Homo sapiens: one gene and its partners. The protein of the gene in region 4 purifies or fractionates together with the protein of the main gene of each other region. This does not show direct contact. Each region holds a gene or a part of one and is shown on either strand. Other genes may lie near its edges.

Region 1 (3,970 bases), on a different chromosome or scaffold from region 4:
TGGTCAAATGACCTGGGGCAAATTGCTTCACCTCTCCAGTCTTCGGCTTCCTTGCCTCTAAACAGTAATAGTAATAAACCACCCTCCAGAGTTGTGAGCATTCAGTGAGATTACATGCATAAATAATTTGCTCATGGTAAGGAGTTGGAGTTCCTGGAAAACATGACAAAGGCACCTTCACAGCTGAGGTGGCCGTCTGAGTCAATGACTCCAATTCTGAGTCCATTGCTTCTGGCCTGTGCTGTCGGGGTGCTTTTTCTCTGCAGGAGCAGTTTATTTCTGAACCAAGGTCATAAATTAGTTCATTTTGCAGTTCTTGAACTGAAAATTTTTATTCAATATCTTTTATGAGAATCACTCAAAGAAATGCCAAAACAACAATAACAGTAATACCTAACACTTATATAAATCCTACTTATGTGCCAAATACAGCTATAAACACTTTAAATGTACTTAATCCTCACAGAAACCCTGTAAGATAGTTCAAAGGTAAATTGAATTAATAAAATAAATCTGACGTGGTTTTTTGTTTTTTTTTTTCTTTCTTTCTTGAGACGGAGTCTCACTCTGTTACCCAGGCTGGAGTACAATGGCGTGATCTTGGCTCACTGCAACCGCCACCTCCCAGGTTCAAGCGATTCTCCTGCTTCAGCCTCCCAAGTAGCTGTGACTACCAGTGTGCACCACCACGTCTGGCTAATTTTTGTATTTTTAGTAAAGATGGGGTTTCACCATGTTAGCCAGGCTGGTCTCGAACTCCTGACCTCAGGTGATCCACCTGCCTTGGCCTCCCAAAGTGCTGGGATTACAGGCGTGAGCCACCGTGGCAGGCAAAATCTGACGTTTTAAAAAGATGTATTTAGATTGACAGTAATACTAGTTCTTTGTATACATCCCGCTGCAAAGAAACGCTTGGAGGTTTTGGACTGGTTTTAAATTAAGAGACCAAATGGTGTCCATTCAAATTCAATTTGAGGCAATCTTTCAACATTTCTCCCACTCAGTTGCCTGCTAAAAACATCATTTTCCCTCAATGGGCCAAACTATGTAGTACTGACTTATCTTAAAAGCTTTATGATGAAAAATTTCAAACCTATACAAAAGCTGAGAGAATAATATAACGTATGCCCATGTACCCATCATCCAGCTTCAACAAATTACCCGCTTCAACAAACCATCACTTTTCAATGGATTTTTCCTTACCCCTCCCCATACTCCTTAGTGAAGACTTTTTTTTTTTTTTGAGAAAGAGTCTCGCTCTGTCGCCCAGCCTGGAGTGCAATGGCACGATCTCGGCTCACTGCAACCTCCGTCTCCCGGGTTTAAGCAATTCTTCTGCCTCAGCCTCCCGAGTACCTGGGACTATAGGCGGCCAACACCACGCCCGGATACTTTTTTGTATTTTTAGTAGAGATGGGGTTTCACCGTGTTAGCCACGATGGTCTCATCTCCTGACCTCGTGATCCGCCCGTCTCAGCCTCCCAAAGTGCTGGGATTACAGGCCTGAGCCACCGCGCCCGGCCGACTTTTTTTTTTTTTTTTTAACAAATGCTATGCACAGACAAAACGTTATCTATGAGAAACCTGATTCTGAGCGTCCTTCATGTCACACTCTGCTACAAAATGATTCCACCTTCTCTTTCCACAATTTCTAGTCCTTTTATTCTAAGTCTATTACCTAGCATAAGACTTTATCCTACCCATTTTCATCTCTCTGGCTGGTCTTTGCACGTGGCAAAATCCAAATGGAGAAAATAAGTGTCTGTGGGGCTTCAAACATCCAAATGATAGTGAGAAGAATAACAAATTCATCAGAGAGGGTTAGGGGTAAAAAATTTGAGAGGCACTCCAATATAAATCTTCTTGGCAGATGGGGAAACTGAGGCCCATGCTCTGAGCTGTCCAAGGTACAGAAGAGAATCACTTGAATCAAGAAATGAAGATAGGATGTGTGGAAAGTAAGCTTCTACCATCCATACTTCTCTCCACTCCTTTCCACCATCTCTACCCATTCCTACCACATCTGTGACGGCCAGAACCATCTCCCCAGACCCCCCGGGGGCAGCATTAACCTGTCTCAAAGCATTGTGTAACACCAGCAGATTTTTAAATCCTTAAGGGCAAAATCAAGCCTCAGTCTCCCCCTACAAAGCTTAATAAGGTGGCTGATTGATACTCGGTGGTCACTCAAATATTTACCGACTCAGAACAGAGCTTTCTAGCGTTAAAAGTTCTCCTTTACCCATTTCCTAGCAACCAGAACCCTAAGCCTATCAGGCTTCCTATTTTTCTACCTCTCTCTACAAGCTCCGGCAGCCTCATTTCTTAGGAGGATGCAGTATAAAGAAGGCAGAATGGGGAATCGGAAAGACTGAGTTTGTGTCTTGGCTGCTACACCTGGTTTGTGCGGCCTCGGACACATCGCCCCTTTCCAGGGACTCCACACCTGCATCTGTAAAATGGGCAGGTTTTAGGAAGCCTTCGTGGATCCAGCCTCCTCTCCGGCGCCGCCCTCTTCAGGCAGCGCCACACTGGGCCTCGGCTTCTCCCACAGTCTCCACGACCTGGGTTGGGTCCGCTCCACTCCCCGAGCTGCTCACACTCCAGAGCACTACATCCTTACCTCCCACTCCCAGGTTGACCTTGCGGGGGTCCGGATCCTCCCTGAAGTCGGCAGTGAGCTTGAAGACCAGGACAGGCTGGGCCTGCGGAACCTCGGCAAAGACTGACGGAGGTGCCATATCGAGAGACTAGGAATCAAGAGATTTCACCCCACGCCCGGAGCTGGCAGGTCAGGTCTGGCCGTTGCGACTGGAGGAGACACTCACCTTCACCTAGCCGGCGGGGGCGGGCCCGCGGCCTCCAATGGTCGAGCCGCGTCCAAAGCTTGGCAACGCGATTAACCAATCGCCAGCTTCTGACGACGAAGGCACAGGGGAGAAGGAACGCTATTAGCCAATCCAAGAAAACAATTTATCGGCTGCCGAGAATGATGCAACCAATGCAATTTCCTCCGGCTGAGGCGTGGGCGAAGACTACGGTTGATTGGTAGAGCGTGCTCCTATCGCAGAGGCTGTTATTCCTTGGGTCTCCCGGCTGAGGGGAGGAGCCGAGCGAGCGGCGGGTGTCCCTGAGAGGCCACCTTTCGACCTTCGAGGGCCAGGAGGATACGGGGAGGTGGCCGGAGGGAGTTCCCGAACACAGGTCTTCCTGTTCCCGCCGAGCAGGTGTTGGCGGTGCCAGGCCCGGCCTGGCGGGCCCGGGCTGGCAGCCAAATACCCAGCGTCTGTGCTCGGGACGGGAGTGTTCGTCCAGGACGTGCAGCTCCGGAGCCTGCGCGGGCGACCTTGACCACCTTTGTCGGCTGTTTCCCCCTGAGGGAAGTATACCTGTCCTGCCAGCCTTGGTCTCTGGCAGGGAAGGTCCTTCCAACAGAGAGGGGTGCGCACGAATTCCTTTTTGCCGCTCTTCTATTAATAGTTTGAGATTTTCCTCCCCGATTCCTTGCAGAGAGGGCCTGGTCCTCAAGGACCTCGGGATCTGGGCGCGACGTCCCTTCCCAGCTTCCTCCCGCGCGCACCGGACCAGATCTTGCTGTCGTCAGCTGGCTGGTACCCAAAGTTCCTCTTCGTCAGGCTGTTCCTTCCCCGTTAGAGTCCTTCCTCCCCAGGAGCCCTCTCCATCTGCTGACCTTCAAGACCCAGAGCGAATGCCACTTCATCCATGAAGCCTTCCCTTAACCCTTATCTGGCCAAAATGTCTCTTTCCTGTGCTTCTGTACTTTCACAATTTTAGAAAATGCCTTTGTGGTTAAAAACCTATCTCCGGGACCGGACTATCTAGGTTTAGATTCTGGCTGCCGCTTACGAATTTGGGCAGGTTTAGTCAAGTTATTTTAACCTCTCTGTGGAAGTTCCTGCTCTGTGGAAATAATAGTATTTTCCTCAGAGTTGGTGTGGGGAGTTTGTGA
Region 2 (3,500 bases), on a different chromosome or scaffold from region 4:
AAGAAGGGAATGGCAATGGCTAGACATTCACATTTTGGCACTACAGAACACAGGAGCATATAATGAGAAGGGAGTCCAGGGGCAGTGGCTCACGCCTGTAATCCCAACACTTTGGAAGGCCTAGGTGGGCGGATAACTTGAGGTCAGGAGTTCAAGACCAGCCCAGCCAACATGGAGAAACTGCGTCTCTATTAAAAATACAAAAATCAGCTGGGCATGGTGGCGCCTGCCTGGAGTCCCAGCTACTGGGGAGGCTGAGGCAGGAGAATCACTTGAACCCAGGAGGGGGAGGTTGCTGTGAACCAAGATGGCACCACTGCACTCCAGCCTGGGTGAGACTTTGTCTCAAAGACAAAAACAAAAACAAAAAAAGAGAAAGGAGTAAGAAGGGACTGAGAATTTGTGAGAAAATGTCAAATACTTTATGTGAGCAATGAGCAATGTGATGGAGAACTGGGCAAAGGATAGTATAAATGTTGTTGAGTAGCAATGAAACTAGAAAACATGCTTGGCTAATATTAAGCATGAATTTATACCAGGCTCAATAAAAGGTTTTATGATTATATGTTTATAATGCCTGCTCTCCAGTCCCAAAGCATGAAGACAGAGAGTAGACAACGAGGGTTAGCAAGGAAATGGACAAGAGGCTTTTGAATGTAGGACGCTAGGAAAACAGTCACAGTACATAAATGGGCTCAAGCTGGCCAGTTAAACGAAGAGGTTTTAAATAAAATGATAGAGTTTAGGACCCTCATAAGCTTGCTCTAGATTGTCTCTAGCTCTTATGAATTTACCTTTTATTTTCTTAACTCCTTAATGAAATATTATCTGTCTCCTAAAACCATCCTCATTCTAATTTCCTGGAGGGTGAACTATGTTGCCAGTTGCTTCTGAAACCCTTCAATAATAATTGCTCCATTTACCTTAGTAGCTACTCAATAGATATAACATTTATTAAATATTAATTGTGATAAACTTTAAAACTGCTTTGTGTGCACATATACCTATAAACATTAATTTGTGCTTTTTAGCCAATAGGAAAAGATCATGCAAAATTAACTAGCTTTAATCAAATAAACATCTATAATTGTATAACTGAACTTACACTTTCCACAAATACCCAAAAGCTACACTGTCATCAATAGCCTCACCTCTTTACAAGAACTAAAAATAGATTATTATCACTGATACTAAGACTGCTGGCAATGAGTGAGCTTAGATAGTAAGGTATTATCAGAAATGACAAGATTATAATCAATTCAGCTCTGCTAAGTCAGTTCTTAGTAGCTGATCTTAGCTCTACTAAGGCTGTCAATTTGCAGGAATGAATTAATCTGGTTCTTCAAACCTTTGTACCAAAGTATAAAACCTGAGTTGGGAAAACTGAGACAGATGAACCCACATCCTGCAGCCAAGCCTGGATTATTTCTATTGCCAGGGACACCATGTACATTAGAAAAAGCTAAAAATAATCAAAAGAAAATGTATTTCACTTAGTCCAACTTGGCTATAGAATCAAGGCCTTAAAATAGCTTTGAAAGCTCAGAAGGTCTGGACAGATGTGGAGGCGATATTAAATACAATATCAGAAGTGTTTCACAGAATAGGCTAATAACTGTAAAGCACTAGTTCTTAGGATTATTTCTGTCCCAGTACACCTAAGGGAAATGGCCCACTACATTAAGTGTTTGGCTCATTGAAAGTGGTCGTATTCAACCACCCTTCACTATGAGAAGTTAGTGCAAATAATAAAGAAATAAATACAATTTCTAGACTCCACATGATAAAATAAAAAAATAATTATATACAGACCTCATCCAGGGTCTCTTCAGACTTGGTTTCTTTGGGTTTATCTTCATTAAGCTTCACATTTTTTACTTGCTCAGACACTTTACTTATACTTTCAGTACCCTTAAAACGCTGTAAGGAAAATGTTGTAACATCATACCCAGGACAGGCTAAAACCAAGAAGCAACATCAAGATTTTCAGCCTCTCAATTAAATGAACATCTGCATAATAAATATAGGTTGTATAACACAATTGTGAATAAATGGTCTAAGGAAACGAAGAGCAAAGAAAGAATTTTGCTCATAATTTATTTTTAAACAATAAATGATTACCCTCAAACCAGCTTACAATATAAATTCTGAAATGAGAACCATGACCTTAGAAAGGCCAACTCATACCCAGAGATATAAGCACTATTCAAATAACTCCTAAATAAAGATTTCTTTCCTGTGGAAGATATTCATTTCATAGTAAACAAATGTGGGAGAATGTCTTAAAATGTATTTTTGTAAAGCTCAGCCTAAATCTAAACCAGACTTTAAATTCATTAGTGAAATGGAAACTTATTTTCAATATAACATTTAACATATATAATAAAACAACAACAAAATACATTTAATATACACCATATGCTAAAGTAATACGGTAATACCACTGACCTAATGAATTTATAACTTCAGTGGACTTAAGAATTTGTTGTCTCAATTTAAGCTACAAAATCCAGACCCTTTGAAAATACTGAAACATTCTGCCATACTGCAGATTAGCCTTGCTAGATTTGACAGCTAGTCCACTTATGATAACAGTTCAGAAAAATTACAGGTGGAAAAGCTCCAACACATTCAACAAATCAATGCATTTTAAACATCTTTTTTGGAAATAAAATTTCAAAAGTGATGTTCTGCTAACAGAATCTAACAATACTCACCTTAGTTTCAAAAAGATGGTTATAGGCTGTAACCAAGTGGTCCTTGTTAGCTGTCTTGGCCACATTTTTAATGTTTCCTAATAATTTATGTTCTGCAAGAAACTATAAGGAAAAAAGCTGGGTAATCAAGATAACTTCTCCCGAGTAAGAAGTGTCTAAAATTAGAAAACGATCCTTTTATGTTAGCAGTTGTGTTTTCAGTAGTACTAGTACTGAAGAAGAAATAAAGCCTATAGTTTATACTCTTTGTTACAAAAAAAGTAAGAGATTTTTTAAAAATTCGGTATTTACAAGAATTAGTGACAAGACTGCAACTGTAGTGTTATGTACTGAACACAGTGTTTCATCCTAAACTTTTTCCTGTCAACACTCACAAAAAATAACATTTATACAGCAAGCACACTGTGGTGACTTGAGTCAGCTGCTCACTGCAGGAGGATACTTGGGTGCAGCCCTTGAGAGCCTCCAGCCAGGTTGGACATAGCTATCCTGAGGCATTTGTAACCCATTCTTAGCCGACTAGGAAGAGTCACTGTTACACAAGCATGTAACATACATATGTTGAGATTGCTATGCTTAACATTATATATATAATTGCTAAGTATATGGGCTGTGGAGTCATATTATCTAGGTTAAAATCCTAGCTGTGTGGGCCGGGCGCGGTGGCTCATGCCTGTAATCTCAGCATTTTGGGAGGCTGAGGCAGGCGGATCACCTGAGGTCAGGAGTTTGAGACCAGCCTGGCCAACGTGACAAAACCCCATCTCTACTAAAAATACAAAA
Region 3 (3,327 bases), on a different chromosome or scaffold from region 4:
GGAAAGTGTGAGTTACTAATTTTCTTTTAGTGACTGCATTTTTGTCACTATGACACCTAGCTATTGTTTGTCCTTCCCTCTGTCAGGACTGAAGGTTTATGTTTCACTATAAACCCTGGCTTATTACCAAGCAGCACATCCTATGGCTGACCTAGCATGTTTCTTATTCATGTTTACTTACCCTAAGATAGGAAAATTCCCCACCCCTCCTGTCAATATTCCTAAAGATTTTAAGATTATTCCAAGTTGAATTTAAGATGAATCTGGGCCAGCCAAGTCAGTGAAATAAGCAAGGGTCAGAAAATGATTAGAATTCTGTCATTTACTATGTGTAATGGTTTCCTAAGCCTCAATCTCCTTAAGCATAGAGTGCAGTGTTGTGTGAAGTAAATAAAATGTTAATGTACCTTGTAACAGTACCTAGGAAAAAGGTACTTAAAAAAAAATCTGACCCTACCTATCTAGAAGCTAGCCAGAAAATAATCAGCCTGTGGTTCATATGAAAGTTCAAAAAAAATATTTATTTATAAAAAATACAATGGGATAAGTTTATGCTGAGAAATGCAGCAATAAATACAGTTGAAGAAAACAGAGCAACTCTACATTGATACATTGGCACAAACAGGAAGAGCAAATGCATCACCCAGGCCTAAATGTCCACAGGCCACTTTTGTACATGCTCTTTTAGAAACACCACTCTGAAAAGATCTTGTTCGCTAGGTAAGAGAATGAGTACACATATAATCACAAATGCACACTGATCATGACTTTATTTAAAAATTAGCAAACAATACTGTAGAAACATTGATATGTAAATTTCTAAAATGCTGCATCTTAAATTTAGTTGGCAAAGACCACATTTAGCAATAAGCATGAGTTTAGTCTTCCATGTAGAAACCAGATACACTAAACTGTAAAAAAAAAAAAAAAAAAAAAAAGTTTCCTATTGTTTGAAAATACCAGTTTAATATAAGATTGTAAAAATGCATAGATTTTTGCATAAAAGAACTGGCTGTACAAGAGTACTCCCCTTTCACAGTATTCCTTTTTACTTCATATGCGAGTTATTGATTATGCTGTAGGATTTAACTATTACAGCACTAAAAGGCAACTATTGAGGGAAGAGGCAGAAAAAGGAAAAAGGAATGTACGTAAGGCAATTTTTCTTAAAAGTACAATAAGCTTAATAGTGTTTTAGGAAGACAAGATAAAAATTACTCAAGGCTAGCTTGGTTCTCACTGAATAAAAACAAAGGACTAAATACTGAGCTCCTTCTGTGTGGATCTAATAATCAATGCCTTGGTCGCTATATTGGTAATCTCTGGGGTAGTCATCCTGGTACTCGCCATGATACTCATCAGGGTATTCTGCCTGATAATCACTATCACTGATTTCCGAACCATTTGTTCCTGTTCCTTGGCTTCCGTTGTGAATGACAGGTTCTGTAGGAGCAGCACAGTATTTGGGATCATATACTTGCCGCCCAAGCCCATACACACTCATTCCTTTCTGGGAAGCAACTTTGTTGGTACCCATCTGTAGGGAAATTGTCGAGTTGTCCACCGGCTGTAATGTTAGCTTCTGATCATAGATGTCTCTTCTGGTACCTGGTGCTAACATCCCTGCCTGGTATTAGAACATAGTATAAAAGTTAAAACAGCAGCTAGAATCTATTCTTGTGAATAATTTATAAATTATAGAATTCACATTGAATATGAACAGTAATACATGAACTTTCATTTGGTTCAGGGGTAAAGCTAGCTTAACCAAAATATCCTGATACCGAATCACTTCCATGAAGCAATATTCATTGGCTTTTGAGCTAGGTGAGACCTTTCTTCAAAATCCTTGCTCTGCTATAAAATTACTATGTGGCCTCAAACACGTAAATTTAGCTTTAGGTTTCTCAAACTGCAAAATGGAGACATTACTACCTACTCTGGATTTAAGAGAGAATGAGACATAAAGAATGTGAAATCATAATGCTTCCACACCAGAAAGTTCCATGTGAATGCCCATGGGGACCACATACATTATCTGGGTTACCAATTTCAAAAATTTATAATATATTCAACAGAAACTATGTTGAGCAGATCTTAAGGACTTGAGTCTTTTCAAAAGGCTGAGATACAGAAGAACCAGCCACTTCACAGCCACTCCCCTCTTTTTCAGAGTACAGTAACTCATACTTCATCTCTCTACTTACATCAAGCACACACTTCCAGGTTCAGAGTGGGTAGAAAAGTAAACGTGAGTGGCAGCTATGAGAGACATAATGCCGCACCCGGTAGGATGTGTTCCATAAGGGCAAAGTTTGATAAATCTCCCTTGGACTCGGTAAGAAAATGTTTTTCAAACCCTATCCCAGCTGTTGTTGGATGTGAGACCTGTCTGTTCTCAAATGGTTGTTGAACTTCCTTCTGAGGTGCTGGTGATCTATTTTTAACAAGGAAATATTTCTATCTTGGATGTGGTATACTGGTATTTTCACCATGTTGCATTTCCATCTCCTTATATTGACACATCTAATAGGAATGCTAGTTAAATCCTTCTTAGTGGAACACCAGGTAATTTTACCTATTAATTAAGGGCTCCTTAAAAAAAAAAGTCAGCATTTAAATGAGCAATATTTTACTTGGATTTTGGAGCAAGAACACTGTAATAAACATATCTTTTTTTCTGCTGGCTAGGTAGAAAGGCCAGCTGTTCTAACTGCCAACAAAAACCACGAGACACATCATGCTTTTGCTGCTATCGAAAAGGTCTTTTGATTATTTTGCTTTCCCAGCAAAGTCCACATTCCTGAAGGAATATACTCTAAATAAACTATACAAAAAATACCTACTTTAAACTTCTGGTTAATAAAAATAAGGTAAGTGTACTCTTGTACACGTATAAAAAGGTATTGCTTACCTGGCTGGCTCCTTTATTAGTGCCCATCTGCAGACTAATTGTGGTCTGGTCAAAAGGTTTGTCAGTTTGCATTTTGGGATCATAAAGATGCCTCCTAGTCCCGTAAGCTGTCATACCTGCCTGGCTGGCACATTTGTTGGTTCCCATCTTTTAAGTTAAAAATAAAATTGCACAAATTATCAGATGTCAACAATATACACAACACAAACAAAACTTTCCATGCTACCAAAAAGACAGAAGGGGCACAACCGACAAGTTACTGAGCTGAGGCTCCAGTCAACTCTTCTATGTGTCTACAAACAAATTTCAAGTGCTAACTTTAAAAAGAAAATTTTAAAGTCACTATAGATAAAAACTCATACATAGAAGAATTAAACACACTTTAACAGGTGGACTGACACACCAAAAGTCAT
Region 4 (3,500 bases):
CTGACATGAGCCCCTCATATTTCAGTCATGGGGGAAAGTGCCTTACCTGGGTTCCTCTCCAACACACACAAACTTCACCTCTAGGTGTCGAGACTCGGTCCAAGAATAGTTACTGTCCAAGTGGATGGAACAGAACCTGGTGACATTCCCGTGAAATCTAGAAGATCTAACTGGGATGTAGCAGACTTCCCAAAAAGCTGTCCCCAGCACAGGCTTAGATAACCAGCACTCCAGGAAAACTCATATATATATATACACACACATTTATATATACATTTGTGTGTGTGTGTGTGTGTGCACGCACATGTGCGTGTGCATGGAGCTTTGGAAAAAAGAGTAGCTGGGCACTATATGATTGTACTGGGTTGGAGAGTGACCCACACCGCACCCCCCAACCCCAACCGCATCCCAGAAATTAACATCCCCAGAATCTCTGAATGTGACCATATTTAGAAATAGGGTCTTGGCAGATGTAACTAGTTAGGAAGAGGTAATACTGGATTAGGGTGGCATCTAATTCCATGACTGATGTCCTGGTAAGAAACGGAAACACACACACAGAAGGTCACGTGACGGCAGAGGCAGAGCCTGAAGTGATGCACCTCTAATCCAAGGAATGCCAAGGATGGCCAGCAGCCACCAGAGGCTGGAGAGAGGCCTGGGACAGACACTCAGAGCCCCAAAAGACACCAGCCAGGCCCACAGAGCTATCTGTTAAAAGCAAATATTTGAGGGTTTCTGTTGACAGCAGCCACAGGAAACAAAAGGCGGTGGGAAATGGCTATTGAGCACTTGATGTGAGGCAAGTCCAAACTGAGCAGCGCTCTGAGTACAGACACACCAGATTTCAGATGCAAACTCACACATGCTTCATTAGTAAGTTTTATACTGAAAAAAAAACAAGTTTTATACCGATTACATGTTGGAAAAATTGTATTTGGATATACTGCGTTAAGTAAAATATATAATTAAATTAAATTCTACCTATTTTCCTTTTATCATTTTAAAATATGGCTCCTAGAAAATTCTAAGTTACACACATGCCCCAAATATATACCAGACAGCACTATGACAGAACATGTCCTGCCTTCTAAATGGGCTATGTCCTAAATGTCATCACTACAAACTCTGACTTAGGAAATGAAAACACTGACCCCATGGGAAGGGGTCTAGAGATGGAGACCTCACAAGAGCCAGCAGCTCTGCTGCCAGGGCCCTCAGGAAGCAGCAGCTCGCTTCTCTCCTCAGATGGCCACTGCTGCAGCAGCTAGATGCACACATGAAGCGCCATAGAACAAGGAGCCAGCAAGAATGTCCTTCATCCCTACACACAGCTGAGCGACTCAAATTTTTAACACAGAAAGTTAACTGATTCAGATATGCACACCAATCATCTAGATTTTACAACTGCAGCTAGATGAGGCTGGGTGAATAGGACTCATCCACTCCCCACCGTGGGGAGAGGAGAAACAGCGGGTGTCCCAGGTGTCATGGTACTCAGACTAGGACTTGAGCAACAGAAAGAGATGGCTTGAGGAGAAAACGGAGAAATGCCACCTAGGTGGTAAGAAAGCTCACAAGGTTTCAAAAGACACAGATACCATGAGACTTTCACATCTATCGTTCATTCCAAAGCCACGTTATTTGGAGTGCAGTCAGCACACCTGTGTTTGAAGCCCCTGGGATGCTTTTTATAAAATGCAGGTTCCCAGGCTCCATCGCAGGCCAACAACTCCAACCCCAGGAGACGCTGATGTACACACTAAAGCTATGCCTGTGTAAATGGTAAAGCTTTGTATGTGGGTTTCAATCCACTCCAGGTATCTATCAACTGCTGAGCATGGTATAAACTAGGCACTGTATCATGAGCAGGATGGAAAGATGTCCCAGTGCTCATACGCTGGTCAGGGAGACATGTAAACAAGCAGTGACAAAACTGTGACATCTGGTCAGAAAGGCCCAACCTTCAGGCGCCTGTGTGTGAGCTGGGCAAGAAAGGGTATAAGAGAGAACAGGGCCCAGTCAGGAGACTGTGAGTTAGTTTGCACTTTATCCTGGGGCGGATCTGAGAGCTGCTGAAGGGTTCTAAGTTGTGCAGATCAATGACTACTCTCTGGTGGACAGACTGGAGGTGAGCAGGAGGCAAGGGGACCACTTAGAGGCAAAGGCTGTAAGAGAAAAACCTGAGAAAAACAGATAGCTGCTTACATTCCACTTGTATGCAAAAATTTAAAAAAAAAGAGTTGAAGCAACAGTTACAAATCAGGAGATTTCAGCTCAAAATGCAGGGTTCTGGCTCTTTTCAAAGGGGCCTATGTGACAACCCTGGGCCCATATTCCAGAAGCTGCCCTGTGGTCAGTGCACGGTGCTTCAATCTGTTCACCTTCAATGCAAACGCTGCAAGGGGAGGCACCTGTGGGGTGTGGAGGCACCCGAAACCCTAACAAAGGCACCAGGGTGGGAATCCAGGTCTTCAGAAGCCAAACCCTAGGAACCCAGTAAATGGTCAGACAGGCAGTAGCCATGAGGAAGGGAGACTTGAGGGTTCCACTGGTTCCCAGCTTGGTCCCCTAGAAACAATGGGTGCCATTAACCAAGAGAAGGGTATAGGAAAGACAGTCTGATGCCCGGGGTGGGGGAAGGGGTGGGCAATCCCACTTGCTGGAGAGTGCCGTGGTTACTATTATATTAAAACGAGGATGGATCTGTGCATGCCTGGCCAGTGGAAATCGCACCCCCGCCTCAGTTCTTGGGCTTGCTCTCCATCTTCCTGCTTACCAGAATGATTTTGGTCTCATCTAGTTCGGCCTGCACTTTAGTCATGGGATCAGCTTCTCGTGGGTTCTAGGAAAGAGTGAAAAATAATAAAGTCAGGACTGGAGTGGCTACCTGCAAACAAAACCTAAAACTGAGGAAGCTGGACAAACTTTCACAGGTTAAAAACCACAGCCTGGGCCGGGCACAGTGGCTCACGCCTGTAATCCCAGCATTTTGGGAGGATGAGGCGGGTGGATCACCAGAGATCAAGAGTTCGAGACCAGCCTGACCAACATGGTGAAACCGTCTCTACTAAAAATACAAAAATTAGCCAGGCGTGGTGGCACATGCCTGTAATCCCAGCTACTCGGGAGGCTGAGGCAGGAGAATCGCTTGAACCCAGGAGGTGCAGGTTGAGTGAGCCGAGATTGCGCCACTGCACTCCAGCCTGGGAAACAGAGTGAGACTCCAACTCAAAAAACAAAAAACAAAAAAAAAAACCCACAGCCTGTTTAACATGTAACAGAAACCCAAAGCCTGCCTAGAGCTTGGGTTCCCCGGTCTGAACGTAGATTCTCTGTTTTCCAAACAGTAAGGCTTGAGAGAGGACACCAGCATCAGAAGCTGTCAGAAGTAATTAGACCAGAACTATCAGGGCAGTTGGCTTTTTCAGTTTCACATGGATTCTGGGCCACATGGTGTCTGCTGAAGCTTCCTTTAACCCTACCTGGTATCTACTGAG

Evidence for each region. Proteins that work in one complex are often made in the same cells at the same time.
Region 1: the proteins of YKT6 (region 4) and GOT1 fractionate together in Homo sapiens (co-fractionation; one large-scale study listed by BioGRID). This does not show direct contact.
Region 2: the proteins of YKT6 (region 4) and FKBP3 fractionate together in Homo sapiens (co-fractionation; one large-scale study listed by BioGRID). This does not show direct contact.
Region 3: the proteins of YKT6 (region 4) and CNN3 fractionate together in Homo sapiens (co-fractionation; one large-scale study listed by BioGRID). This does not show direct contact.

The regions. Positions count from the first base shown.
Region 1 is NC_000010.11:99,427,825-99,431,794, forward strand, and holds the start of GOT1 (aspartate aminotransferase, cytoplasmic), read right to left. Parts: upstream 2,801-3,970; 5' UTR 2,742-2,800; coding exon 2,624-2,741; intron 1-2,623. UniProt on the Homo sapiens protein: Biosynthesis of L-glutamate from L-aspartate or L-cysteine. Important regulator of levels of glutamate, the major excitatory neurotransmitter of the vertebrate central nervous system. Acts as a scavenger of glutamate in brain neuroprotection.
Region 2 is NC_000014.9:45,127,982-45,131,481, forward strand, and holds part of FKBP3 (peptidyl-prolyl cis-trans isomerase FKBP3), read right to left. Parts: intron 2,820-3,500; coding exon 2,718-2,819; intron 1,921-2,717; coding exon 1,813-1,920; intron 1-1,812. UniProt on the Homo sapiens protein: FK506- and rapamycin-binding proteins (FKBPs) constitute a family of receptors for the two immunosuppressants which inhibit T-cell proliferation by arresting two distinct cytoplasmic signal transmission pathways. PPIases accelerate the folding of proteins.
Region 3 is NC_000001.11:94,896,457-94,899,783, forward strand, and holds the end of CNN3 (calponin-3), read right to left. Parts: intron 3,062-3,327; coding exon 2,915-3,061; intron 1,628-2,914; coding exon 1,286-1,627; 3' UTR 501-1,285; downstream 1-500. UniProt on the Homo sapiens protein: Thin filament-associated protein that is implicated in the regulation and modulation of smooth muscle contraction. It is capable of binding to actin, calmodulin and tropomyosin. The interaction of calponin with actin inhibits the actomyosin Mg-ATPase activity.
Region 4 is NC_000007.14:44,207,478-44,210,977, reverse strand, and holds part of YKT6 (synaptobrevin homolog YKT6), read right to left. Parts: coding exon 3,486-3,500; intron 2,846-3,485; coding exon 2,780-2,845; intron 1-2,779. UniProt on the Homo sapiens protein: Vesicular soluble NSF attachment protein receptor (v-SNARE) mediating vesicle docking and fusion to a specific acceptor cellular compartment. Functions in endoplasmic reticulum to Golgi transport; as part of a SNARE complex composed of GOSR1, GOSR2 and STX5.